Linked DNA regions of Homo sapiens. The protein of the gene in region 1 purifies or fractionates together with the protein of each later gene. This does not show direct contact. Each region holds a gene or a part of one and is shown on either strand. Other genes may lie near its edges. The genes, in order: DNAAF8, DUSP3, MEIS1, ACOT9, PRPSAP1, CCDC85C and PBX3.

Region 1 (4,122 bases):
ACCATGCGGTCTGAGGATGGCCAAAGGAGAGGCTGATTAGTGGGGACTTGGCCCACTTGTGACTTACAGCAGCTGGAGCCTCAGGACCCCTGGGGTCTCCACATGTGAATGGACCTCAGGCTCCTCCACTGCCCCCGCCCAGCCCTCTCCCTACTCAGCCCTCTGAGGACTCCACCTCTAGCTCAGCAGGGCTGAGGGGGGCAGAATCTTTATGAGCAGGGCCTGTGGCACAAGGGCTTGGTGAAGTAGGAGTGACGTATTTTTAAGTTTATCCCACTTCCTCACACCCCGGTCCCACTTGTCACAGGTGATCATAATGAACAGTTCTGTGTGTTGACTTAAAAAAAAAATAGGGTCATCCTCTATAGGTTTTTTTTCAACTTCACTTTTTTCACTTTGTATATTACATGCTTCCACGTTAACCTACGGAGATCCCCTCATCGAGCCGCAGTGTATTCTGTGCTAAAACGATCTAGCTGGACTCCTCCTGAATATGGGTTGTTTCCAGCTTTTCAGATTTTTAAACAACACTGCAGCAAACAGCTCTGAACACACATCTTTACCTACTAGAGTCAGAGTGTAAGACAGATTTTCTAATTGCAATAGCTTGATTAAAGGGTTATGTGCCTTTAAAACAGAGAATACATTCGGCCAAGCGCGGTGGCTCACGCCTGTAATCCCAGCACTTTGGGAGGCTGAGGCAGGCGGATCCTGAGGTCAGGAGTTCGAGACCAGCCTGGCTAACATGGTGAAATCCCGTTTCTACTAAAAATACAAAAAAAATTAGCCAGGCGTGGTGGCACGTGCCTGTAATCCCAGCAACTCAGGAGGCTGAGGCAGGAGAATCGCTTGAACCCGGGAGGTGGAGGTTGCAGTGAACCGAGATCGTGCCATTGCACTCCAGTTTGGGCAACAAGAGTGAAACTCTGTCTCAAAAAAAAAAAAAAAAAAAAAAAAGAATACATTCTGCCCTACTCCCCTCCACAAAGGGAGTGCCAGTTACACACACACATACACATGCACACACATGTCCTCCAGAATGGTTGGCTCTCTACCTCCTGCTTTATGGGATTTGAATTACAAACCAACAAAATGTATTTAACATAACACGGGCTGTCAGTCACAGGGGAGTCTTTGCTTTGGGACCAGAGGCGGAAGCGCCGCACCTGCCCTGGCTCCTCTGCCTCAGACCTGCCTCCCCTCGCCTTTGTGGCCCGAGTGGATAGGGAGGGGTTGGAGAACTTTCATTTTATTTGCAGGACTTCCCAGAGCAAAGCCATGAGTGTAGTGACAGTGGTGACATCCTTTGCCTCCCTTTTTAAATGGGGAGGCCAGGGGAAGCGGGAGCGTGCTTAGGAGCTGACTGCGCACAGAAGGTGGGGCTTCCTTCCCCCAGGAAGGAGGAGGAGGGAGAAGGAAGGCAGGCTGGCCCAGGGAGGTGGGGAAGAGGAGGTATGGGTCATGGGGTGGGGTGCGGAGGCCTCTCCTTTGTCCCTAGGACCTGGCCCACGCCTGGCACGTAGCAGGCGGTCACATATATGTTGAATGAATGAAGTCTTTTGGGGACTGGCAGCATGAGTGTTTAGGGCGGGGCCAGCAGGGAAGACTTGTGTGGGCTGCAGGACTGTCTGTGACCAGCCTGCAGCCCTCTGTGTCTGAGGGGCCCAGGAAGGTGCTGCTTGTGGGGATTCACGTGGGCTCCAGTGTTCAAGGTCAGACCTTGAACTTGGCGGTGGTCAGCTGCCCACCACACAGTTCCAGGTGCACGATTTCCCTGGTTGTCTTCTTGTCCCGCCAGACTCTGAAGGATGTCATCCAAATCCCACGCTTCAAGTTGCTGAAATCATTAAAACCAGTGATTATGAGGATGCTGAGGGGTCCCAGAGGCACAAGTACCTGCTTCACAGCTGCTGTGACCCATGGAGATGGTCACAGGATGTTGGGGGTAGAAATCAGGAATTCAGTGCATGACAGAGTTTGCAAATAGGCTGACCCCGCCTTTCCATTACAGATTGAACGCCTCCGTTAAGGTGGGCCTGCACTTTGCCACCTCCTTCCTATGCTTTCTTGGGGATCAGTACTTCACTTTTGTTTTTGGCACAAAGACGTTGTCTGACCCGAAGGAAACCCTGTATTGTTGTTTCATTTTGTTTTGTTTTTGAGACCGAGTCTCACTCTGTCGCTCAGGCTGGAGTGTAGTGGTGCGAGCTCAGCTCACTGCAACCTCCACCTCCCAGGTTCAAGTGATTCTCCTGCCTCAGCCTCCCAAGTAGCTGGAATTACAGGCATGCGCCACCACACCCTTCATTTTTTTTTTTTTTTTTTTTGTATTTTTAGTAGAGATGGGGTTTCACCATGTTGGCCAGGCTGGTCTCGAACAAACACCTGACCTCAGGTGATCCACCTGCCTCCACCTCCGCCTTCACCTCCCAAAGTGCTGAGACTACAGGTGTGAGCCACCACGCCCAGCCTAATTTTTGTGTTTTTAGTAGAGATGGGGTTTCACCATGTTGGCGAGGCTGGTCTTGAATGCCTGACCTCAAGCAATCCATCTGCCTGGGTCTCCCAAAATGTTGTGATTACAGGCATAAGCCACCGAGCCCAGCCAAACCCTGTGTTGTTTTCAGAAACACTATTTAGGTTCATACAGGTTCACAATGTTTGGAGGTTAAAAAATTTTGTTCTTTTAAGAATCAAGCTGTTCCAGGCAGGAGCTAAAACTGGAAGGCTTGGCAGTGAGTGCTTAGGGGCAGAGTGAGTCTGAGGAGGAGGGAGGAAATTAATCAAGAATTCATGTTTATCATATGACCTTTCAACTCTTTGCAGCCCTCTAAGTGGAGAAAAATAAGTTTTTAGGTGAGCAGAAAGAACGGTTGATTTAAACAGTAGTAAAGATGACTTCTGTGTATACCTGGTGCCAGTTTTCTCTAACCTGTTAAGAAAAATTATCCAAAATGTGTAAAACCGAGACGGTGTGATGGTTACTTTTCTGTCCAGTAGACAAGATAACTCCTCTAGGACATGAATGTGACAAGCGTATCTCTGCATTCCTCTCTTTTTCCCCAGTGTTTTACAAAATCCCAATTTCTTTTTTTTTGAGATGGAGTCTCGCTCTGTCACCCAAACTGGAGTGCAGGGGCGTGATCCCCATCTCCTGGGTTCAAGCGATTCTCCTGCCTCAGCCTCCCAAATAGTGGGACTACAGGCGCGCACCACCACACTTGGCTAATTTTTGTATTGTTAATAGAGTCACGGTTTCACCATGTTGGCCAGGCTGCTCTCGAACTCCTGACCTCAGATTTTCCTCCTGCCTTGGCTTCCCAAAGTGCTGGGATTACAAGCGTGAGCCATCACACCTGGCCAAAATCCCAGTTTCTTATGATCTCATTAAACCGGCACTGTCATCCTGCTGGTTCCCTCATTAATGCACTAAATACAACTTTTTAACAGGTGCTCACTAGTTTATGAGAATGAGGGCTTTCATATTTTGAGATCAGGCTTTGACAGAACCAGGTTCTATATTTTAGATATGGCTATATGTATTTATGAACATCCTCGGGAGTGGAATTCCTTTTTTCTCTCTCTTTTTAAATTTATACATTCTTTCTTTCTTTGTTTCTTTCTTTCTTTCTTTTTTTTTTTTTTTGAGATGGAGTCTCGCTCTGTCACCCAGGCTGGAGTGTAGTGGTGCGATATCGGCTCACTGCAAGCTCCGCCTCCCAGGTTCACGCCATTCTCCTGCCTCAGCCTCCTGAGTAGCTGGGACTACAGGCGCCCGCCACCACACCCAGCTAATTATTTTTTTTTTTTTTGTATTTTTAGTAGAGATGGGGTTTCACCGTGTTAGCCAGGATGATTTCTTTTTTTTTTAGAGATGAGGGTCTCACTGTGTTGACCAGGATGGTCTTGAACTCCGGGGCTCCCGCCTCGGCCTCCCAAAGTGCTGGGATTACAGGTGCGAGCCGCTGTGCCTGGCCTCCTTTTCTCTCTTTAAGGAAGGCAGGCCCTGCTTGTTCTTTGTTCTTGTTAACCCTCCCCCAGGATGTGCTCTGCTGGGACCCTCCACCCCTCTACTGAGACAGGTACACAGAATGGTGGATAATGGGCCTAAGGTCCTAGTGG
Region 2 (3,975 bases), on another chromosome or scaffold:
GCAGAGATATCTCTGTATATACACACGTATGCACATATGTGTGCTTATATATGCTTGACATTTTCCTTTAAGGATATGATGCTTATGGGGAGACAGATTGAAGGAGCAAGTGACTCACTTTTCCGTATAAGCCTTTTGCATTGTTTAAGTGTATTACTATGTACATATAGTATTATTTTTAATGAAAAATTTTTTAAAAATTATACTTAAAAACTTTTACCTGTTTTATATTTTAGTGCTCTGCCTTAAGATTTTGTGTAGAACCATAAAGATTACATTGTCAGAGTCTTGACAAACAGGAAGCGAGTCCAATTGCTTCATGTGATAGAGGGAATGGGAACCTCGAGAGGCTTTCTCTGCCCAGACTTCTGTCTGGGAGGAAAAGGCAACTACTTTCTCTAAGGTTTTTTATTCAAAGGAACATAGCACCAATAGTGGAATTTAAGGCATCTGGGGGAAGGGGATATGTTTAGGGACTGTTCATTTGCAGGATCACTCAAATCTCAAAATGTCACCCAGTCATCACGTGAGGCTACCTTGAGATGAACACCCTAGTCCCCTGCTTTCTTAGAAGCACAAACCTTACCTCCTTCATTCAGGACCATTATGGCCATTCTACCTAAGAATATTCCTACCAGAACATTTCTGGTACTGGAAAGGTGTTCATCAATATCTACTGCATAAACAGTGCCATCATGGAACCTATAACTAGCTCAGAACGGCTATGTTTTAGATGATTATTTTTAAAAAGTTAGAAATCGCAAATATAAAAGCTAAGCCCAAACAAAAAAAGCTAAGCATAAAAACGTAAAAGAATACCAACTGTGATAAGAAGGACAAAAAAACAATACCTTTGTAATGTAAGACATTTATTTTGGCTAAAGTTCTGGTGTTTTAACACTGATTTGTGATACAACGGACATTAAACTTCCTTTTAAAAAGAAAAAAACAATTTGGTAGCTCTCCCTTTTCTGTCCAGAAAAATTCACTCTTTCATAATCAAATTACCCTAAAATTTGGTGGCGTTAAGAGGCAACAAAAGTTAAGCTTCCAACGAATCTGTTCTCTCAACCGGAAATGTCTTCTATTTCCAATCAGGATAAAACCTTGACTTACTTGCAAGGACTATCACGGTTAGCCCTTCAGTGATTCCTGACACCAGTTCTGTGAAAAAGAAAATTTCCTGCGAGAAAAGCTCATGTCTTCATATTGAAGATCAGTACTTTTTTTTTTTTTTTTCCTTTAAAACAGTAGCATCTTAACTTGTGGCACAAAAGGCACCAACATTCCCTTTCCAAACCATCCATCACCATGGGTGGAAGGCAGCGCCACCTGCTGCCCATCATATTATGGCTCACATACCCATAATTTCCTTGCGGTGCTGAATTCCAAGTGGGGATTATTAGAGACCCCTCAGAGCCAAAAGGGGACCTTAGAGGTCTTCTAGATGAGTCCCCTCATTTGTAGGTGGTGGTTTCTGGATAACTCAGAGTGGCAGGGACACAGACGAGCCTGTGGAAAGGTATACTGCTTTAAGATTGAGAAGAAAACCATTTGGCGCTCTAATTTTGCCTGGATGGTGCTCTGTCAGTCAAAGAAAGGGAACAGGTCTGGGGAGGGGGTAAGGGCACCCTGAGTTCCTGTTCCATCACTTCCCAGGCAGTAGAAGGCTGTCCAGGAACAGCTCCCATCCGCAGCTGGGCATGTGTTGGCTCTTACACAAGAGACTTTAATTTTACTTGAAGAACTAAGAGCTAAATCTTGTTAAGTAAATACGGGGTTTCAGGGGTGAAGGACTATCAAGAAATCCCAAGTTATCAGCATAAAAGTAGTCCCAAAGTAAAGGCAGTAATTCTCCCAATGGCCTTTTCTCCCTCATGCCCCCACAGAGACTTTCGAGAGGTCCTAGTTAGCCAGCCACACCAACCTGCTGTGTTCGCGTAAGTAGCTGTGCCTGTCCCATGGGGTGACCACTGCCTGGTCATGGGAGGGGAGCCCCAGCCCCAGCTCCCTAGCCTTTTCCAGGAGCAGAGCAGAAAGCTCTACTTCGGGGTGCTACATCCCACCTGGAGAAAGAGCTGCACATTCTAGCCTATGAGGGACCCACCCTTTTCACTTGCTTCTCCGGGGCTGGATTGAGGGTAAGTGCAGTACACCTGGAGATCCCAGGGAGCCCCCTTCTTGAGAAAGAGTATCGTATGAAAGAATCCAGCTTCAGGGAGCAGCAAACCCAAAATCTTGCCCAGCTCCACCTTATGGAGCTGGACAACCCTGGGGGCCAGGCCCTTAATCATTCTGAACCTCAGTTCCTTTTTTTTAAAAAAGGTCACAATACAAGAACAAGCTCTACTAACTTTACAGGGTTACTGTGAGGCTCAAGTTAGATTAAGTTGGAAGGCTACCTAGAAGCTGTGCAGTGAGGTACCCAGTTTAGAGGATGGCCATTTCACTTAGGTGGGTTTATCTGGACACCTTTTTCACTATCTGGAGAAGAAGACACATACTGGTTGTTCAGGGCTGCTGTGGTCACAGAGAAAAGCGGACAGCAAATGACCAGGCTGGGCAGGGCTGCTTCTGTGTGATCAGAGACCTTCCCAGCCGGGAGTGAGGCCTTACGCCACACCTGCCTCTCCGTGTCCCAGCCAGGAGCTCCTGGCCAACTCTGAAAAAGGCACATTCCCTACCTTGGCATATTAACACTGCCTGAATTTAAATGTAAAACTGAGTTGTAAATAGTCAACAAAAGTCCCTGATATTTCTTTCGTTTTAGGTAAGACTCCTTCACAAGGCCTTGCGAGTGATCCTACCATGAATTCAGTCTTCTGGGAGCGTGACACACCCACCAGAACAATGCCCTATATATATTTGGTGCTCAAAAAGTGTTTACTTTCTTAAACTTTTATCAGACACCTATGTGCAAGGTGCTGGGGGCATGGCTGAGGACCTTCTCTTTGCCCAGAGTGACCCTGAAGATAAATAGCATCACAATCACTTTCCATAATAACAATAACGTAAAATCCTAACAAGACTGTATTTAAAACAAAACTCTTATATTCTGGCAAATGTGCATACACATGTGAGGGCTGGTGCATTCCAATATCATCCTTAGAAAGTCTTTTGAAAGGTTTATCGTGTTTGGGTTTTTTTGCTCTACCACCAATAAAGGATCCATTTGGACACTCCGCCATGTCTCATGTCTGCCTGGCTGAGTCACTTCAGGGATCCCGTGCTGGCACCAGAGAGCTGTAAGAGCCACCTGCAATGGGCAGGGTGTGTGCCTGGGACCTTTCACTTCCCTGCTTGTCTTCTGGCCGCGTTTCTGAGAGGCACGCCCCCCACACACATCCATGCACACACGCTGTAATTGGCCAACTTCCTCCTTCTGTTCTTGGAATAGCAACCGAGACAAAAAGCAGTTAGCACGAGTGGCTTGGGCTTGCCAACACTACAATTCAGGACAAAACCCTTGTAATTCTCCAAATGGTGGGGTTTTTAAATAGGTTGGACTTCAACTCCCTGTTTTCTAAAAAAGAAAAAAAAAAAAGCATGCCCAAGGCATCACTCTTCTCAAAAACGAAGTGACTGAGATAAGATCGAAGGGAAATATTCCAGAGCAGCAGATTCTGAACTCAAGGCTTCCAAAGATTCACATTTTGAAAACTCTATGGATTTAGGAGGGTTCTCCAGGTTTGCCCACAAGGCCTCTTTGTGTAGGGACCATTCATCCTAAGGAAATCATTCAAATGCAGCCTTGCTGTGGGAATCTCCATCCACTAATAACTGACGGACACCCCCACCCCAGCTTCGGACCTCAAGACGTGAGAGGGCTGCCTATGCACAGGGTGTGGAAGGCTGTGGGGACAGTGCAGGGCACAGACGTGGTGGGGAGAGTGGCCTGCATTTGCATAGTTCCTTTACTAGGGCTCAAGGTGTTGAGGTCCACACTCAAGAGAGGATTCGGGAGTTGGGGAAGGG
Region 3 (4,122 bases), on another chromosome or scaffold:
TTCACTGAATAAACCCAGTGAAAGGATTGATCCATTTATTTTAAAAAGAAATAGCAATTTGCTTTTAAAAGGTGTGAGAGGTTTTCGAATATGTCTTTTGACATTTAAAAAAAGACTAGTTTACAGTTTACTAATAAATTGGTATTGCTATTGTTTTAATTAGCCAGAATTTCAATGGCTTTTTTACATCTAGCAAGAATTCAGAAAGGATTTCCTAGATAAGTTGCATTAATCACATAGCAATGACGTGACCATTTAAAATTTGTACAGTCTTCCTAATGAATTGTGCATCCCTGAAGACCTCCCAGAACTTGAAATAAAGTCACTAAAGAATTAGTACTGAGATGTCAGTGGTTACTTACATTTAGACAAACAACAACAAAACTCTCTTTAGATTCTATAGGTTTTTAAAATAGAATTTATTAAAATTAGCTCCTTACTATAAATATTACCTAAGCAGTCCATGCATTCCTTCAAGAAGGATTACAAAACAAGGGTAACGGGTGTTCCTTATAGCTGGAGGTCTATTTGCTCTTGCAATTAGAGAAGTGGGAAGGAATCTTTTTCATTGGGGGAAGGAAAAGATGAAAAATTTAAACATATCTCTTAACTTTGCTCTTCAGATGATGTTATAAGAACAATTAGCTATCTACAGACCATTATCATTAATCAATATTTCTGTATGAGCAGATGGCATTGGAGTGGGTAATGGAGGTAGAAATATCCAATGGAAACCACAAGGTAACACCTATAAACATTCACAGAAAGCTGGGGAAACATGGATGAATGGGCTTCCCCTTCCAGGGCAGTGGCACAGGCCAGCAAAGACCTCAAAACTGAAGACTATTATTTAGGTCTCAAGAAATCAGGCAGTTCATGAATAATTTCGATTACAATTGCCCCAGTAACAAACACATAGTCCATATAAGCAATGCAATGCATGTAAAATCATGCGGGCTGTTAGAAAGTTTATTTGGGTTTTTTGTTTGTTTGTTTGTTTCAAGAAGATAATGTAGCTCTATGCAAGGGTCTTCACAAGGGTACAACCTAGAAAAACAGGAAAACTAGTGGCTGCATAAAATAGCTTGCTTCTCTCTCTCCTGATTCTGTCTGAACCAATATTTGATTATATTTTATTCAGGGGCACCTCAGCTTCAAGTAAAGCCAAAACTCCTTTGCAGATTGAGATGGGGGCTGAAGAAATCTATTCATTGTTTCTGTTAGTCTATAGGAAATAGAAATTATTTGATTGTGACTTCAGGGCCAACCTGATTTTATCCACCACACCAACTCATTCCACACAGCGAGTTAGCTGGTTATTTCTGGAGATAAAATATTAGCATCATTGCATCAGCATCATTGTACCACACCTTTGACCAATTGCCACTTCTTATCTAAATGTCATATCATTCGTTTTTCATGATATGCCCTCAAGACCTGAGTCCTCTTTCCCCTAGTTCATTAGTGATTGATAATCCTCAGTGGGGAATTTGCAGGAGTCAGATATTGAAATATCTACACACATGCAACAGGTGTCAGATAAGTAGTGGTGCCTGAATCAGATTCTAGGTAAACCTAATATGATGTTAAAATCAAAACAGCTCAAATAATCTAAATCTCCAACTAATTTCCAGCATAGCCAAGCCCTGAAGTTTACTCAAAAACTGTAGTGTAGTCTAGATACTGTTTGGAATTATTATGGGAAGAAGAGAAGGGAGGAAACTTTTTTTTTTTTTTAGCTATTCCTGCTGCTCTCAGCTTTTATCTTATTCACTGATGCTGGAAAATCTGGATTAATTTATACCCTTGAGTATTATTAGAGGCACAGCCTCTATCCAGAGGAGCAGAACTAACATGACCTGCAGACATCCCCTGAGTTTGTATCTCTGTACCCGTAAAACTCACTGAGGAACATGGCTTTGAATGTGGGCCCAGGTATGAAGGTAAACAGGCTCTGCAAGTGTTTATGACAATGCAAGATTAACTTTAATATTTAAGGAAAAATTGACTTTAGGAAAAGCAAGCTAAGACAAAAATAGTAACACAAAATATTTTCTCCTGATATTAAAAAACAACCCTCAAGAGTTTTTAACATTTATCCATCTATGTAACTTTGCTACAACCTGTCTAAATTCATCCTTTGTCTCTAATATTGAAATTCCTCTGGTCAACAATTTTGTTGATTTTTAAAATATTATTTTATCCACAAATCTTCATTGTATCTTCTTCTTTAAATTGGTATGCACTTACAAAAATATCCACCAAAATATTATTATTATAAATATTTTGAACATGAAATTCATTCAGAACAATAACCAAACAAAACAAATCCCCCAGTGGCATAAAGCCCCAAATCTCCAGTTTCTCACATCTCCAGGAGAATTCCTGCAGTGAAAACAGCAATACTGGCACAGACAATATAAACTGTTACTCTGCTTGAAAAGTCACAAGGGACTACACAGGAAGAGCTGACTCTATATTGCTGTTTTCCTTTACAGTTCTAAATACAGGGACAACTTTCACTGTGGAGCTCTGACTTACATGAATGTTTTGTAATGGAAGCCAGTGCATTCAAACCACTTAAAAGCAAATTATGTGATCATCTTGCCATTGCAACATGATTTAAATTTTTGTGGACCATTTGTTGTAAAGATCCACTAAAGCATCAGAAGATATTAAGTCTCTCTCTAGGGTTTGTCTAACTTTCTTCTTAGTAGGAGATGGTTCTGAGCACTTAAGGGTCACACTTAGAAAAGCAACATCATTAAAACACATACTTAAAATCACAAGTGCACATGAACACCTAAATCTTTTAACTTATGAAAGTTAACAAAATCGCAATCGTGAATTTTAAATAAAATTTCTCATTTGGGGTATCTATCTAAGAAATAAGTGCTAATACTTTTGCAAAAACTGTGGGAACACAGTTATTTATTAAATATTTCAAGTCCAGAGGGATCACTTTTTTCTCATTTTTTTGTATAAAAACTGGTTCATTGTCCATATTTAGTTTATATATGTCATTTAGAATCCACTTACTGTTAGATGCTGGAACAGCCACGCCCTCATGATATTTGTGGCTACTTTGGGAAAGATGCCACGCTTTTTGTGACGCTTTTTGTCCTTATCAGGGTCATCATCGTCACCTGTGCTGGGGGAAGCTACACTGTTGTCCAAGCCATCACCTGCAAACATAGCGAATCAAATTTTGACTGATGCTACCTTGACATGCTTTATTCAAATAGAATGCCTTTGGATATAAACAAAACCAAAAGAGCAAATTTAAATGATTAATAGTTTCTTTGGTACTGTTTTTTTGTTGTGTTTTGTTTTCCAAGACAGAGAAAGAACAAGGCCTAGGCTCAAGAGCAGTCAGGTCTAAAGAACTTCTTCCAAAGAACATTGCCAAAAGTCAAAGGGAATGGAGGGAAATATCCAATCCCCTTGTGGCTTTGTTGCTATGGTAATTATTCCAATATGTATAGCTGAGACAGGTTAAGTGTAACTCCTACCGGGGAGTTAAACATGGTGGCAGTCATTAGCTGTGGCGCTATGGCTGCCTGGGCATTCAAATCCCACAGTCATTGACATTGACTTGTGAGAAGATTCATTTAAGATATCAACTATTTCCACAAGTGATCTATCTTAAGACTAGTTAAACTAGGATGGGGAAATGTAGGTAATCCATCATATAAGCAGTTTGACATAGGAATGCTTCAAATAAAATATAATTTTTCTTGTAATAGAGAGAAAGCATCAAGTTTAGTAAAGGAAAAACCCCTGACATAGTTTCTTAATTAAAAAACAATTACTGTGTAAATCAAATAAGGTAATGCTAAATTAATAGTAAATTAGAATTGTATTACACTAATAATTCAGGCAGTTTCTAAAATTCATGCTAGGTAAACCTAGCATTTTTCACACTGAAAAATCACCTGCTAACATATTCCTCTATATTGGATCCTATTTTTCTATTGATTTTTATTATAACATTTACACTCTTTATTCTAGAAAATATTTTGGCTCTGTGACATAATGAAATTTAAAAAGTTAGTATTTCTTTTTTAAAATGCCATGTTTAATAAGAAAAAATAAAAATTTAACCCATATAACTGTTCAAAA
Region 4 (4,122 bases), on another chromosome or scaffold:
CTTTGGGAGGCTGAGGCAGGTAGACAGGTTGAGCCCAGGAGTTCAAGACCAGCCTGGGCAACATGGCAAAACCCCATCTCTACAAAAAATACAAAAATTAGCCGGGCGTGGTGGCATGCACCTGTGGTCCCAGCTACTCAAGAGGCTCAGATGGGAGGATCACTTGAACCCAGGAGGTCGAGGCTGCAGTGAGCCAAGATTGTACCACTGCACTCCAGCCTAGGCAACAGAGTGAGACCCTGCTTCAAAAAAATAAAAAATAAAAGCTGTCTACCTAAATGTGCCTAACCTACTCTCCCAAAATAAGTTGATTTTGGTTCATTATTGCTTAAGCATTGACTCCTAATCACACAATATTATGTCAGGGGTAGCACACAGGCAATATCACAGATTAATAAACTGATCTGTGAGAGCACAGTTGAAGAAGGCAAGGCACTGAATAGGTTAAGAACCCCGCAGGCCAGGCGTGGTGGCTCATGCCTGTAATCCCAGCACTTTGAGAAGCCAAGGCAGGTGGATCACTTGAGGTCAGGAGTTCGAGACCAGCCTGGCCAACATGGTGAAACACTGTCTGTACTAAAAATCCAAAAATTAGCCGGGTGTGGTGGCAGGCACCTGTAATCCCAGCTACTTGTGAGGCTGAGGCAGGAGAATCGCTTGAACCCAGGAGATGGAGGTTGCAGTGAGCCGAGAACACACCACTATACTCCAGCCTGGGCAACAGAGCAAGACTCTGTCTCAAAACAAAAACAAAAATAAAACAAACAAACAAAAAAAACCCAGAACCCCAGATACTGTCACTCATTCCAGTTCAATTTACTAGTAAATTCTCACCACCTAATGTGGGAATAAGCAATGACTAACAACAAAAAAAAGAGATATTTTTAGTTTTCTTTACAGACCAAGCTACTATAGGTTTCTCTTCTGAATGACAGCATTCAGAGAAAGCCTCTCAGTATTTACAGTATTCTGTAAAATCTACATGCAGTTTTGACACTGTGCTGTTAGAACAAATCCTTATCCTTTCACCAAGTCAAATCATCTAATTGCACAGAACACAGAAATATGAGCACATACTCATTGGCTAATTGAACTTCTTAGTCACCAGTCATCTTATTTGGTTGCAATACAATCCCTGCTGGTCCACTAAGACCAAAATTCTTGCTGGAGGGTTTGGGGTTTTGGATCTGTTTATTCTTCAATCACACAGCTAACAAGCCTCTCTCTTAAATATTTTAGCTTCACTTTTTCACGATAAATATTCAATTCCTGTACTTTCGTATACAGATTAATATTTGTCTTTTTTTTTTTTTTTAGACAGAGTCTCGCTCTGTCGCCCAGGCTGGAGTGCAGTGGTGCGATCTCGGCTCACTGCAAGCTCTGCCTCCCGGGTTCACGCCATTCTCCTGCCTCAACCTCCCGAGTAGCTGGGACTACAGGCGCCGCCACCGCGCCCGGCTAATTTTTTGTATTTTTAGTAGAGACGGGGTTTCATCATGTTAGCCAGGATGGTCTCAAACTCCTGACCCTGTGATCTGCCCACCTTGGCCTCCCAAAGTGCTGGGATTACAGGCATGAGCCACCGCACCTGGCCGTCTTTTTGTTTTTGACCATCTAATCTGCATTTTCTCAGAACGTGATTTGAATTTTCCATTTTTTTCATTATTTTGTTTTATGTATCTTCTATAGGTTCATATGCCTTACTGAAGGAAACAGAGTAAGTATTCCTTCATTCTTCCATCTCAGAAACAAGCAGCCAGGCATGGTGGCTCATGCCTGTAATCCTAACACTTTGGGAGGCTGAGGTGGGTAGATCACCTGAGGTCAGGAGTCCGAGACCAGCCTGGCCAACATGGTGAAACCCTATCTCTATTAAAAACATAAAAATTAACCAGGCATGGTGGCGCACACCTGTAGTCCCAGCTACTCTGGAGGCTGAGGCAGAATCACTTGAACCCAGGAGGCAGAGGTTGCAGTGAGCTGAAATGGCCCCATTGCATTCCAGCCTGAGCAACAGAGCAAGACTCCATCTCAAAAAAGAAACTAGCATTCTACAACTGAATATATCTGGTTTTAAAGAACACACTGGAAAAAGCTAATCCTTTCTATTGCTACCATTAGCTGAAAGAGCAAAAAAATCATGACCCCCAACACATTAATAGGAACTATAATAGACACGTTAAATGTATCCAACATAAGAAATGGGATCTGATTCTGAATGGCTAAATACCCTGAATACGCATCACTAACAGGAGCTATATAACCAGTCTCACATACCTGAATAAATACACATATACACAGAAATTGTTTTGTTACACTAAGAAGCAGCATTTTCTGAAGAGGGATGAAAATCATTCCATCCTGTTTGTGTGAGAGGCAATACAGTATAGGGGTTAACCCAAAGGCTGGGCGCAGTGGCTCATGCCTGTAATGCCAACACTTTGGGAGGCCGAGGCAGGCGTATCACTTGAGGTTAGGAGTTTGAGACCAGCCTGGCCAATATGGTGAAACCCCGTCTCTACTAAAAATATGAAAATTAGCTGGGCATGCTGGCGGGCACCTGCAGTCCCAGCTACTCGGGAGTCTGAGGCAGGAGTATTGCTTCAACCCAGGAGGCGGAAGCTGCGGTGAGCCGAGATCGTGCCACTGCACAGCGAGACTCTGTCTCAAAAAAAAAAGAGCCCAATCATGCTGCTTGTTAGCTGAGTTACCTTAGACAAGTTACCTAACCTCCCTGATCCTCAGTTTCCTCATCTGTAAAATGGGGATAATAATACTACCTATCCCATAGGATTGTCAAAAGGATAAAGGAATTAACACATATTAAACCCTGAAGGGCACGTCTAGAAGAGCATGTCTAATATACTGACAAGTCCTCAAAAATCTCTAGCTATCATTATTCCAGAAAGTCATGCTTCTCCAAAGTCTCCCCTAAAGATCAAAAAGAACCAGGCTGGGCACAATGGCTCACGCCTGTAATCCCAGCACTTTGAGAGGCCAACGCGGGAGGATCACTTGAGACCAGTGTGGGCAACATAGGGAGATCCCGTTTCTACAAAAAAATTTTAAAATATTAGTCAGGCGTAGTGGTGCACACTTGTGGTCACAGCTACTCAGGAGGCTGAGGTGGGAGGATCACTTGAGCCCCGGGGAGGTCGAGGCTGCAGTGAGCCATGATCGCACCACTGCACTCCAGCCTGGGTAAAAGAGCAAGACTCTGTCTCCAAAAAAAAAGGAAAGATAGCCTAAGCCAGGCACTATCACGGACCACTGCCAAACATAGAATCAAATGAGGAGAGAAAAGAAGGGAGTTAATGAATACAGAGAAACACTTGGGCCAATTTATTTGGAAAATTGTAGTCCTAGAGCCCCATTGCTTTGCATGCTGCCTTAAAAAATTTGGAAATACATTCCTGTGGCACAACAAAGGCATAATTGGAACACTTTTTAAAAAAATGTTGCTTATACCAATAGCATATTGGTAATAATAAATCTATATCATACTGTCAACATAGCATTCAAGAGTATTCGGGTAATGGTAACTTTTTTTTTTTTTGAGACAGTCTCACTGTCACCCAGGCTGGAGTGCAGTGGCAACATCTTGGCTCACTGCAACCTCCACCTCCCGAGTTCAAGCGATTCTCCAGCCTCAGCCTCCCGAGCAGCTGGGATTACAGCTGTGCACCACCATGCCCAGCTAGTTTTTGTGTTTTTAGTACAGACAGGGCTTCACCATGTTGACCAGGCTGGTTTTGAACTCCTGACCTCAAGTGATCTGCCCGCCTCAGTATCCCAAAGTGCTGGGATTATAGGCGTGAGCCACCGCGCCTGGCATGTAATGGTAACTTTTCACTACATTTGGTATCCTATTTACTGATAATCTGATGGAAACTGTGGACCTCGAGCGGGCGTGGGAAGGGTTGGAATACATTTTTGCTCACACACACAATGGTATATACTATTTCAGGAGGTGCACAGACCCTTTTTGTACCCTCAGATCCCCCTATATTTGAAGATTCTGATTCAAACCAACCTCCTTAAGAAACTGAGGCCCCAGTTTCAGACGACTTTCCCCCAGTGCCAGTCAACAGGCACACCAGCAGAGTCCAGATAGAGCCCAGT
Region 5 (4,122 bases), on another chromosome or scaffold:
GGTTGACTGCTTGAGCCCAGGAGTTCATGACCAGCCTGGGCAACATGGCAAAACTCCGTCTCCACAAAAAATACAAAAATTAGTCAGGTGTGGTGGCACGTACCTGTGGTCCCAGCTTCCAAGCTACTCAGGAGGCTGAGGTGGGAGGATCACCTGAGCCCAGGTGGTAGAGGCTGCAGTGAGCAGTGATCGCACCACTGCACTGCAGGTCTGGGTGAGAGAGGGAGATCCTGTCACTGTACTCCAGCCTGGACAGCAGACAGAGACCCCGCCTCTAAAATAAAATAAAAAGAAATACATTTGGCTGGGCGTGGTGGCTCACACCTATAATCCCAGCACTTTGGGAGGCTGAAGCACGCAGATCACCTGAGGTCAGGAGTTTGAGATCAGCCTGGCCAACATGGTGAAACCCTGTCTCTATTAAAAATACAAAAATTAGCTGGGCGTGGTGGTGCACACCTGCAATCCCAGAAACTCGAGAGAATGAGGCACGAGAATCACCTGAACCTGGAAAGCAGAGGTTGCACTGAGCCGAGATTGCGCCACTGCACTCCAGCCTGGGTGACAGAGCAAGACTCTGTATCAAAAAAAAAAAAGAAATACATTTTATAAGACTATAGATGCCATAGATAGTGATTCCTCTGAAGGACCCAAAGTAAACTGAAAATCTCTGGAAAGGATGCACCATTCTAGATGCCATGAAGAACACGCGTGATTCATGGGAGGAGGCCAAAATATCAACATTAACAGGAGTTTGGAAGAAGTTGATTCTAACCCTCATGGATGACTCTGAGGAGTTCAGGGCCTCCATGGTAGAAGTAACTGCAGATGTGGTGGAAAGAGCAAAAGAACTAGAATTAGAACTGGAACCTGAAGCTGTGACTGGGCTGCTTCAATCTTATGATAAAACTGTAATGGATAAGGAGTTGCTTTGATAGATAAGCAAAGAAGGTTTTTTGTTTTTTTTTTTGAGATGAATCTACTGCTGAAGATGCTGTGAACTCTGCTGAAATGAAAACAAGGATTTAGAAGTATTACAAAAATTATTTGATAACACAGTGGCAGGGTTTGAGAACAGTGACTACAATTTTGAAAGTAGTTCTTTCGGCTGGGCGCAGTGGCTCACGCCTGTAATCCCAGCACTTTTGGAGGCCGAGGCGGGCAGATCACCTGAGGTCAGGAGTTCGAGACCAGCGTGGCTGACATGGTAAAACCCTGTCTCTACTAATAATACAAAAATTAGGCGGGTGTGGTGGCACACATCTGTAATCCCAGCTACTCGGGAAGCTGAGGCAGAATTGCTTGGACCCAGGAGGCAGAAGTTGCAGGGAGCCGAGATGGTGCCACTGCACTCCAGCCTGGGCAACAGAGTGAGACTGTCTCAAAAAAAAAAAAAAAGAAAGTAGTTCTTTCTTCTAGGTAAAATGCTATCAAACAGATCATTTTGTAGTTCATAAGTGTGATCATTGGGTGTTCACGCTTACATGTGAGATGTGCCATCCTTGAACCTTGTTAGAACATCAGTACATCACCTGGCTGACATTTTAAAAAATGCTGTCAGCCGGGCGCAGTGGCTCACGCCTGTAATCCCAGCACTTTGGGAGGCTAAGGCGGGTGGATCATCTGAGGTCAGGAGTTCCAGACCAGCCTGACCAACATGGTGAAACCCTGTCTCTACTAAATACAAAAAAAATTAGCCAGGTGTGGTGATGCATACCTATAATCCCAGCTACTTAGGGAGGCCGAGGCAGGAGAATCACTTAAATCCAGGAGGTGGAAGTTGCAGTGAGCCAAGACTGCACCACTGCACTCCAGCCTGGGCAACAAGAGCGAAAACTCCATCTCAAAAAAAAAAAAGCTATAAAACAGCATTACATGCTACAGAAAGATCTTTTGTGAAAGGAAGAGTCAATCAACGAGGCAAACTTCGTTGTTTTAAGAAATTGCCACAGCTGAGCACAATCACTCTTGCCTGTAATCCCAGCTACTCAGGAGGCTGAGGTATAAAAATTGCCTGAGGCTGGCAGGGTGCAGTGGCTCACTCCTGTAATCCCAGCACTTTGGGAGGCCAAGGCGGGCGGATCATGAGGTCAGGAGATCGAGACCATCCTGGCTAACATGGTGAAACCCCATCTCTACTAAAAATACAAAAAAAAAAAAATTAGCCAGGTGTGGTGGCAGGCACCTGTAGTCCCAGCTACTTGGGAGGCTGCGGCAGGAGAATGGTGTGAACCTGGGGGGTGGAGCTTGCAGTGAACTGGGTGAACCACTGCACTCCAGCCTGGACGACAGAGAGAGACTCGTCTCAAAACAAAAAAAAAAAAAAGAAAAGAAAAATTGCCTGAGGCCAGGAATTCAAGACCAACCTGGGTCCGGGCACAGTGGTTTACGCCTGTAATCCCAGCACTTTGGGAAGCCGAGGCGGGCGGATCATGAGGTCAGGAGATGGAGACCATCCTGGCTAACTCGGTGAAATGCCGTCTCTACTAAAAATACAAAAAATTACCCGGGCGTGGTAGCGGGTGCCTGTAGTCCCAGCTATTCGGGAGGCTGAGGCAGGAGAATGGCGTGAACCCGGGAGGCGGAGCTTGCAGTGAGCTGAGATCGCGCCACTGCACTCCAGCCTGGGCGACAGAGCGAGGAGACTCAGTCTCAAAAAAAAAAAAAAAAAAAAAAAAAAGACCAACCTGGGAAACAGACCCCATCTCTTAAAAAAAAGAAAGAAAAGAAATTTCCACAGCCCATCCCAACTTTCAACAACCACCACCCTGATCAGTCAGCAGCCATCAACATCGAGGCAAGACCCTCCACCAACAAGATGGAGGCTCAGATGACTGCTAATTTTTTTTTTTTTTTTTTGAGACAGAGTCTCGCTCTGTCACCCAGGCTGGAGTGCAGTGGCGCGATTTCAGCTCACTGTAAGCTCCACCTCCATTCTCCTGCCTCCATGCCATTCTCCTGCCTCAGCCACCCGGTAGCTGGGACTACAGGCGCCCGCCACTACGCCCGGCTAATTTTTTGCATTTTTTTAGTAGAGACGCGATTTCACAGTGTTAGTCAGGACGGTCTCGATCTCCTGACCTCGTGATCTGCCCGCCTCAGCCTCCCAAAGTGCTGGGATTACAGGCCTGAGCCATTGCGCCTGGCCAACTGCTAGTATTTTTTAGCAGTAAAGTATTTTTAAATTAAGGTACGTACATTGGTTTTTAGACACAATGATATTGAGCATTTAACAGACTACAGTATAAACATAACTTTTACATGTGCTGGGACATCAAAAAATTCATGAGACTCACTTTATTATAATATTCACCTACTGCAATGGTGCAGAACTGAACCTGCAATATTTAAGGTATTCCTGTGACGACAATGAATTATAACCCACTGAATGAAATAGGCCTATGAATCCATACTGATATAAATGAAGAAATGAATAGGGAAGAAGAGAAAGCTTTCTTGCATTAGAAGGTCAACTAATAAATGTAGAAGGAATGATAGAGTTAGAAAAATGAACACTGACAACAATCACAGTCAATAATTGATTCAGGCAAGAATCATCAGTAGATGTTCATTTTGATGAGAAGCAGAATATTTACAGTTAAAACATAGTCTTAACATGAGGTAGTATTAATTACAAAGAGGAAAAAAAAAAGAGTAACTTTACAGTGGAGAAACCTGCCAGAGAAACCTTAACCAACTTATCAGAATGCACATCACCAGTAATGGGACACATCATGTGTTTCCTGTGATTTTCTGCCAAAAATGCATAACCTGAATCTAATCCTGAGGACACAAACAAGCCCCAATTAAGGGAGAGTCTACAAAATCACTTGATCGCACTGTTCAAAAGTATCAAGGTCATAAGAAACAAAGAATAAAGCAGCCACTCCAGATTAAATGAGACTAAAAAGAAATGACAACTAAATGCAATGTGTGACCCTGGGTTAGGTCTTGAACAAGAAAACAAGTTTATTCTTTTGCTCTAAAGGACACTGCTGGGACCACTGGTGAAACCTGAGTAAGGTCTGTAGATTACAGTGTTACAGCAATGTTAGCTTCCTGAGTCTGATAATGATACTCTGGTTATATAAGAGTCTTTTGTCTTTACAAATATACACGAAG
Region 6 (4,122 bases), on another chromosome or scaffold:
GCCCGCCGACCAGCCCTGATCATGGCCCCTGAACCTCAGTTTATCACCCGGCCTCCTGGCCTCATGGAGGAGCGACCCCTGCACAGCCCCCACGCTGGCCCCTGACCTCTAGGCACACACAGGCACCAGGACGCACTCACCATGGGGCCCTGGCCATCCACCCCACCCCTGTGAGCCTCACTTCCTCCTCTCCAAAGTAGGGGACACCCCTTCATGCACAGAGCAGTCTAGAGGAAAAAAGGAGGCAAGAGGAACAAACCCTTTCCCAAGGCTGCCTCCTCCAGGAAGCCTTCCTGAACATTCCTGAACTCTGACAGCATTTTATCCGCACTCTCAGGCCTTGAGGCTCGGCCCATGCCTGAGGTGTGCTCTCCAGAGGCCTGCAGGGAGACAGCATCTGGCGGGCCTGGTACATGTGAGAGCTGTGCTTGCACAGCACTTCCCAACCTGCAGGCCACGCGGAAGACTTCAGGACATAGCACTGAGTAACTGCTAGCTGCTATTACTCCCTCCCACGATCTGAATGAATGAGAGGCACGGGGCATGAAGACTAAGGAGCCAGCCCCGTGAGGGCATCCCTTGGCTTTTCAGAGCCCTCCACCATGAAACAGTTAGAGCCTCGTTCAGCCACGGGACTCCGGATAAATGCTTGGAATATCGGCCATTGGCGGGCTTTGCTGCCTGCACAGGCTCTACAGCTGCATTCCTGGAGAAGGTGGAAGGGCAGCAAAAGAGAAATCGCAGAGCCAGCAGCCAGCACTGAGGCCCAGCAAGCTCTGCACCGGGGGCCTGGGGTCAGCCTTGTGGGCAAGGGGTGCAGGGAAGAGAGCAGGAAGGGGCACAGCTGCTACAAGCGCACGTGCTGCCCAAGAAGCACCTCCATACACGGCTCTGCAGGTGCCGCAACGAGAACAGCCGATGCTTCCCAAGCATCCGCTACACACCCACCAAGGCTCCTGGAGGCGTGAAGTCCCACAAGGCAAGGCCCCCAGTCCTAGGAGGGCAAGTGGGCCTGGACTCCTGTGGCTCCCCACTGCCATCATATCTATCTACAGGGCACAGTCCTGAGCTAGGTTCCACTTCCCGGGAGCTGGCTCCAAGCCGCCCACCCCATTCCCTCCAGGCCAGGTCAGCCAGGTAGGGGCAGAGGATACCCCTGGAGGCATCAGGCTGGTCATTTCAGTGCAGAATCCACAAACCTGAACCCCAAGCTCCAGGGCTGGCCGGGTACCCTCTCCCCACCGTGGCCAAGGAGTGGCACAGGCTAATGAGCTGCTCAGAGGGACAGGGGCTAGGCACGGGCAGCCCTGCGCACGTGGCCTCTGGAGACTGCCCCGCACCTCCAGCAGTGTCAACCCACCTGGGGCTCCGCCTCTAACTGCCACACTGGATGGGACACGGACACAGGGCCTAGGGCTGGGGCTGAACTCAGGCACCCAGATCCTTGTGCCCCTCCGGGCAGGTCACTGGCCCGCCTGAGCCTCAGCCCCTCATCCAGAACATGTGGGCTTTTTTGGGGTGCACACTCACGTTCTGCAGGGAGTCCTGGTAGGAGGGCGGCAGGGACGCAAGCTGGGACTCCGAGTGGTAGGGCGAGAAGCCTTTCCGCAGCGTGCGGAACTCTCCGGAGCCTGCCTGCTGCAGGGGAGAGAAGGAGAGGGGTTAGACGGAGGGCCAGGCTGAGGAGGACAAGGGCCCTGGGCATGGCTCCTCACGGCAGCAGGGGCTGCTCAAAGGCACGGCCCCGGAGGACCCCTCCACCCTCCCCTCCACACCGCTTATCCATCCCCCGAGCCGGGATCAATCGATCTTCACTCTCCCCAGCTCAAATGTCAGCGATCCACTCTCCAACGTGGGCTTTGTAAACATTTGTTGGATGGCTGAATAAACAGAATGAATGAATGAATGAAGAAGAGCCAGTGAGAGCGAGTGAGGAGAGAGTGTCTCTCCCACCCCGTGACTCACCCTGGCTCCTCCGCTCCAACTTCCTGCCCTTGGGTCCCTGCACAGACGGCACCACTCACAGGGCCTGGGCCAGCCATCGGCAGCAGATGGGGCCACATCCACAGGCGAGGCCTCCCACCTCCCACGGGTTCGGGGCTCTCTCGGGATGCTCCGCCCAGGCTGCCTCCCCCATCGGATGGGCAGGGAGCTCCTAAAGCAGGTCCTGGGTGCTGCCTCTGAATCCCTGAGAACTCGTGCAAGCTGTGGGGTTGTAACTAACTCCTGCACACAGGAGGGAGGGAGGAAGGCTTGGCCTTAGACCCTTTGCTTAAGAGCAAAGCAAACACCACCGACCCCCAGAATTTGGGGCTGGGGCTGGGACCAGGAGCCAGAATGAATCCACAGGTCCCATAAACTTCTCTGGTCAGTCCCACAGTGCCCCTCCCCTGGCCCGGCCCAGCAGAAGGCCCGGCCTTTCTTTTCTTTCTGCATCACTAAAGGGTTTTGGGTGTTTCTGGCCGAAACACCCTTTTCTACTTCAAAGGAACTGAGAGAAAGTGGCTGGGCAGATAAAACCCTGCGGAATGTCCCATAAATCAGCAGGCTGTTGAGTTACCCAAACAAACTGCAGGGGCAGGGGAGGCCCAGGCTGGGGCTGGGCTGGGGCAGGGGCAAGGAAGGCAGGACAGGCTGCAGCCATGTCTGGGGTCCCAGTTCCACTCACCAGCCCCTCGGCCTGGCTGTGAAAGATCCCACACACACCCTGCTTGCCTCCCTCAAAAGCTGGACCTGGCCCCGCACTTCTCACAAGCCCCAGCCTCACTGAGGTCCAGCTCTTGTGTTCTCCCAGCCCCATCAGAGCCCTGGCCAGGCCCCCCACTGGGGCTGGGAGGTCTCAAGAGCTTGGCTCAAGGGCCAGCAAACAGCCGTGTCCTGCGGGGGTGAGGAGGCAAGTGGATGCTCTATTACCAGCTCCCACGGAGCCAAGACAGGAAAGCAGGGATCCGGCACTGACTCCCCTCATTAAATAGCCCACGCCCACCAGACGCCGGTCAGCCAGGGCAGCCGGGCACTGGAGGCTGGGAGCTGCTTCCTGGGCCTCAGGGAGGACCTGGGTGTGGTCCAAGGTCAGGGAGGGACATAAAGGAGAGACAGAGAAGTGGGAACCAACCTTCCTGCAGGGCCCCCAAAGTGTGATGGGTTTTAGATAACCCTGGCGAGCATCACAAAGGGGTCTCAGCACGGGGGCCTTGGGCACAGCCCTGAACCATCAAATGGGACTGCCATGCCCTGACCACGGCATTAACCCTGGCTGACCCTGCCTAGGTTAACTAGAGGCACTCACGGCCCGCAGGTGGAGGTCAGATCAAGGAAAGCCCCCTCCCCACCCACCAGGTACCAAAAAGAGGAAGAGGCTACAGCCCCCACCCCTAGGCCCAGCACTCACCCTCCCCCAACCATGAGTGACACCCCTCCCCCCACCCCATCAGAGCCACCCATGCCTCTCTGGGTCACCTCTCCTGAGAGATGTACCCCTAGCTCCACTTAAGGGCGAAAATTCCAAACCACCTGATTTTCTTGGCCAGGACTCTGCAACAGTAAGAGAGTTACAAAATCTTCTCCAATGGAGAATGCATTCTAAGCCAGCACACACTCTGAATGCGTGCGTGCACATACACACAGTCTGACTACTGGGCCACACAGCCAGGAAGGGTACACCTGGGATTGGAACAGCTGCCCTCCCCTTCAGCCGGCCCTGCCCTGCCCTGCTCAGCTTCTGTTTGGACTCCGGCGTCCCTTCCTCCACATCCTCTCTGGCCCTCGACCAAATGGGCTCCCACGTGCTGTTACCGAAAACGCAGGTTTGTGCTGCCGTCCCCTCCCCTCCCCCAGATAATTTCCCTGGGAGGAGATGTGTGTGCGTGAGCGTGAGGGAGGTTTTTAATTAGCTGCACGCAATTCCCACCCTTGCCTTCGGTGAGCCTCTATAAACATTTGCATGTCCATAGAACTTTATTAGCAAGCCACAAAGCCAGGCAGGAAAAACACACAATCTCTCATTAAGGGGCAATGTGACTAATGGCGCATCAAATGAGTAACCATTATTGCACTTAAATCCAAATTAAAAATCCTGCTATGAGACAGGTCGCTGCCTTTGCAGAATGAGATTCCCTAGGA
Region 7 (4,122 bases), on another chromosome or scaffold:
ACAAAACAAAACAATAAAAAAAAACCCTGGTGATTTGATGCTGGTATAAGCTGGGGCTAAAGTTACATAAAATCTCATGGAAAATTTTGTAGGATATTTCTAAAACAGTGAGACTCAGGACCTTGTCATTGACTGACACCAGCTTCACACAACTTCCACCAGAGTGTATGGAGAAAGTAAGGAGGCAGGTGTAAAGACACATGGCAAGAGGTAGTAAGGAATCACCTTAATTCCTCAGCCAAAAAACTCAGGCCATTTGGCCTCTAATATTATATCTCTTTCCATGCAAGGTGACTGGTAGTGTTTATCTAGTAAGTAGTTATAGTTATTTTAGCATAAAGTTATACAATTAGGATTATACTACAAATAAGAGTCATTTTCTACTGTTTATGCTCAGGGGCAACCTTTTCAACCATGACTTATTTTGTTTACTCTCAATTATTCATATGTCAAATCAGAAAGTGGGATTTTTACATACATACACACGATAATTTTTCCAAAATTCTTATTTGTACATTTTCCACAAGAAGTTATTCTTACAAATGAGACTAGACATACAATTTTAGATCTCAGAAAATCCTATTCCAAAAATAGAAAACACCTTATAATATTAATTTACACTACTTTTTAACTTAAAGCTATACAAATTTTTCTACTCTTCCTCAAAACACACTCACCTCTGGGATAGGATTCAGCATTTGCTTAATACCATTGTATCCAGAATATTAGAAAAGGCAATGTGAAAAAACAACGATATATATAATTGAAACTATACAGGGAATGTAGAGGGGAAAAAATCAGTATTAAAACTGATCAGGGGTTGCCAGGGATCAGTGGGAAGGAAAGAATAAAAGAAGAGAGGGATGAATAGCACAGAGGATCTTTAGGGCAGTGAAAATACTCTGCATGACCCTATAATGATGGGTACATGCCATCATAAATTTATCCAAATCCATAGAGTGCACAATACCAAGAGTGAACCCTAATGTAAACTATGGATTTTGGGTGATAATGATGTGTCAATGTAGGTTAATCAATTTTAACAAATGAACCCCTCTGGTGGGGGATGCTGATAATGGGAGAGACTATGCATGTGTGGGGACAGGAGGTATATGTGATATCTCTCTTCTTTCCTCTCAAATTGGTCTGTGAACTTAAAACTCCTCTTTAAAAGAGTCTTTAAAATACACACAAACACACACAAAACTCACCAGGACTCCCATTTCACACTAAAGTGTGTGGACTTTAAAAAGTACTTGCCTACATAGTGAAATACTCATGGGTGAAATTATAGGATGTCTAAGACTTGCTTTAAAATACTCTTACCAAATTGGGGCTGGGTACACAAAATAAGAGTGGCAAAATGTTGATAACTGTTTATCTGGGTAAAAAGTATCTAGCTGATTCTGATTCCTTATTTGGGGTTGAACTCTATGAAATTACCATATTCAACTGTTTTTGGCCTCAAAACTTAGCAATTTCATAGGGTTCAATCTAATACTATTCTCATTATTTTTGTGTACATGTATTATAAAATGTTTCATAATACGTTTTTAAAATTACCTTCCAAATGACAAATCTTATCAAATGAGAATTCCTCAAACTTGGCAGCTTTTCAGCATTAAACTAACAACTAAAATATATGTAAAAAGACCCACCAATATTTTACTTTATTACATTAAATCTAAGACTCTCTTGTTTTTCTCCACATTTTAACATCTCTGAAATGTGAAAGCATTTTATAATCAGTAATATTTTATAGTTAAACTAGCAGTATTAATTTTTTCTTGGTGTTACATAAAGATGCAACTTAAAGTTATCTGAGATTCAGTATGGTTAATATAATTGCTGAGAACCAGATTTTTAACCCATATTCTCTTTCTAATAAGGAATTTAGCACATAATGCCTTGCCTAGCATTCCCTGTCCTGGGGTACCCATAATTATCTTGGGAGGTCTCATACTCAGAGAAACAGGCCGGAACCTGCTTACTTGGTGAAGTTCCCTATAGTCTGGCACAATCCATAAGAATTAATTCCCAGGAGGATTCTGGAGCTCACAGCATAGGAGGGAAAAGCTCACTGTGCAATGCTTCCCTTCAAAAGTGATTAAAGCTTATGAACAAGGCTAGTGCATAAATGTTAATTATACAGAGCTTTGAAGAGCACCAAGTGGTGAGGTGAGAGGGAAGAATGACTGCAGGTGTGGTAATAAGGGCACGTGAATGTGCGGAATGAATAAAACTAAAACAAGTAGATGGGATAAAATAGGTAGCGCTCCTCCTCCAAAATCTCAAAGGGTCTTCCTTTCATGAATCCAACAATTCACTTGGATTTTTGCACTGACCTTATTTATTTTGTAATTTGTGTTAACACCTACCCCTCACAGCCCTCAGAATTGGTTAGCATGGTCTAATAGAAGAGCAACAGAGGGTTTGTGTAGGACTATGAGAGTGGCGGCTGCTGACCTGTTCATATTTCTCCAGTTCTGTGTGATAGATTTGTCTGATCTGGGTCAATTTGGCTCTGTAATCTGAGTGTTCAATAGAGTTATCTGAAGAACCTCCAGAGGCTGCCGCGGCTGCAGCTGCTGCCGCCGATCCCCCACCTTTCTCAGGACCTGAAACCCCTTCTGCCAAAAGCATATTGTCCAGTCTCATTAGCTGGGGATCGGGAGGGTCCTCCTCCTGGGCTCCTCTGATGCTGAGACCTTCAAGGAAAGAGAGAGAGAGACAGAGAGAGAAGAAGCGAGAAACAGAGGACAAATAGTGTGAGTATTTTGTTTATTCGAGAAAATGATCAAACAACATCAGTGTACTACAATTCATGCTGAGAACTTCATTGTTCACATTTGATCGGTAAGTTTGAATAAGTATGAAAATTATTTTTAAGATAGTGTTTACATGCACCCTAGAATTTTAAATACCCCCCCACCGCCTCAATTTACCACAGACTAGATCCTTAGAAAAAGGTAACCCTGGCTTCCTGGAATATTTTAATCATTCAAGCTTCCCAGATTTAGATAATTTAAGCATAAAATGGGAAGAGGGTAAAAAATTGAATGTTTTAAGAAAGAAAGAAAATAATTACAGGGATATAAAACAACTCATCCAAAGGTGGTTATTCTGTCTCTCTCTGTACAGTTGGAGAAACAGAATTAAAATTCCCATAAAATAGTTAATTCACAAGCTGTAATCAAAAATTGAAAAATAAACAACATTAGATGAGCTTTTCCATCGTGTGATTTCAGAAGAGGAATACACACATTATGAGGTAACTGGCTATACTTAAATATATATATATTATTAAATGAATATTGTTAAGCAATTGCCAGCAAACTATAAAACGAGGATACTAAATACAGTATTAAAAATGTGCCATTGACATGGCAATACAGTGCTGGGCACAGTAGTCTCAATCTAATTTTGCTTTTAAATCAAGAACTTCCTAAGTGATGCCCAGTCAGCAACCTCTTCTGAGTACTATAGATCATAGCTGACAATTCATAGGTTTAATCAGGTCACACAGGCTTTCTGCCAAAATGTTTTCAACAACACAGAAGACAAAGTTTTAAAATAATTATCATGGTATAAAAAGCATTGGAGTCATGACAGCTCAAAATCAGCATTTTCATTAATGTGTAACATAATCTAAAACATCCCAGCCCAATTAACCTCTGTAAATCTGCTTCAAAGCAGGTTCCCTACACTAGTTACAAGGCTTCTTGGGGAAGAGGGGAAAAGGAAGTTGGCACCTTGCTTGTTTGTATTTGGATTCTCTTTTGAGTCTGTGCCTGTTGTTGTTTATCCACAGTGGTACACACTTTGTGTCTAGTGTAACTTACATGACATAACATCTATAAGCTGCCAAGTACTCAACTGATCACCAACTCTGATTTTATATGCTAACCTAAAGCTACCGTCAATTCTTTTAAGAACAGATTTCATTCCTAGATGCCCTGAATTACATCCATGGCATGACAGAGCTCTTGGTTGCCTTAACACAAATGCAAAACTTTAATTTCTTCCCCAAAACACTTTAAAGCTGTCACTTTCATTTAAAATTATACTTCAGAATAATTTCAACTGGATAATAAAACTAACTCACCATAATTTAAAATTTTA

The links.
Region 2: the proteins of DNAAF8 (region 1) and DUSP3 purify together in Homo sapiens (affinity purification with mass spectrometry; 2 studies listed by BioGRID and IntAct, with this or other methods). This does not show direct contact.
Region 3: the proteins of DNAAF8 (region 1) and MEIS1 purify together in Homo sapiens (affinity purification with mass spectrometry; 2 studies listed by BioGRID and IntAct, with this or other methods). This does not show direct contact.
Region 4: the proteins of DNAAF8 (region 1) and ACOT9 purify together in Homo sapiens (affinity purification with mass spectrometry; 2 studies listed by BioGRID and IntAct, with this or other methods). This does not show direct contact.
Region 5: the proteins of DNAAF8 (region 1) and PRPSAP1 purify together in Homo sapiens (affinity purification with mass spectrometry; 2 studies listed by BioGRID and IntAct, with this or other methods). This does not show direct contact.
Region 6: the proteins of DNAAF8 (region 1) and CCDC85C purify together in Homo sapiens (affinity purification with mass spectrometry; 2 studies listed by BioGRID and IntAct, with this or other methods). This does not show direct contact.
Region 7: the proteins of DNAAF8 (region 1) and PBX3 purify together in Homo sapiens (affinity purification with mass spectrometry; 2 studies listed by BioGRID and IntAct, with this or other methods). This does not show direct contact.

The regions. Positions count from the first base shown.
Region 1 is NC_000016.10:4,740,758-4,744,879, reverse strand, and holds part of DNAAF8 (dynein axonemal assembly factor 8), read right to left. Parts: intron 1,838-4,122; coding exon 1,720-1,837; intron 636-1,719; exon of another isoform or gene 11-635; coding exon 1-10. UniProt on the Homo sapiens protein: In cyliated cells, dynein axonemal particle-specific protein required for deployment of ODA to the axoneme. Interacts with outer dynein arm (ODA) subunits.
Region 2 is NC_000017.11:43,765,273-43,769,247, forward strand, and holds the end of DUSP3 (dual specificity protein phosphatase 3), read right to left. Parts: 3' UTR 853-3,975; downstream 1-852. UniProt on the Homo sapiens protein: Shows activity both for tyrosine-protein phosphate and serine-protein phosphate, but displays a strong preference toward phosphotyrosines. Specifically dephosphorylates and inactivates ERK1 and ERK2.
Region 3 is NC_000002.12:66,511,212-66,515,333, reverse strand, and holds part of MEIS1 (homeobox protein Meis1), read right to left. Parts: intron 3,186-4,122; coding exon 3,040-3,185; intron 1-3,039. UniProt on the Homo sapiens protein: Acts as a transcriptional regulator of PAX6. Acts as a transcriptional activator of PF4 in complex with PBX1 or PBX2. Required for hematopoiesis, megakaryocyte lineage development and vascular patterning.
Region 4 is NC_000023.11:23,736,573-23,740,694, forward strand, and holds part of ACOT9 (acyl-coenzyme A thioesterase 9, mitochondrial isoform a precursor), read right to left. Parts: intron 1-4,122. UniProt on the Homo sapiens protein: Mitochondrial acyl-CoA thioesterase. Catalyzes the hydrolysis of acyl-CoAs into free fatty acids and coenzyme A (CoA), regulating their respective intracellular levels. Regulates both mitochondrial lipid and amino acid metabolism.
Region 5 is NC_000017.11:76,322,758-76,326,879, forward strand, and holds part of PRPSAP1 (phosphoribosyl pyrophosphate synthase-associated protein 1), read right to left. Parts: intron 1,543-4,122; exon of another isoform or gene 1,439-1,542; intron 1-1,438. UniProt on the Homo sapiens protein: Seems to play a negative regulatory role in 5-phosphoribose 1-diphosphate synthesis.
Region 6 is NC_000014.9:99,520,603-99,524,724, forward strand, and holds part of CCDC85C (coiled-coil domain-containing protein 85C), read right to left. Parts: exon of another isoform or gene 3,939-4,122; intron 1,639-3,938; coding exon 1,531-1,638; intron 1-1,530. UniProt on the Homo sapiens protein: May play a role in cell-cell adhesion and epithelium development through its interaction with proteins of the beta-catenin family. May play an important role in cortical development, especially in the maintenance of radial glia.
Region 7 is NC_000009.12:125,914,272-125,918,393, reverse strand, and holds part of PBX3 (pre-B-cell leukemia transcription factor 3), read right to left. Parts: intron 2,709-4,122; coding exon 2,467-2,708; intron 1-2,466. UniProt on the Homo sapiens protein: Transcriptional activator that binds the sequence 5'-ATCAATCAA-3'.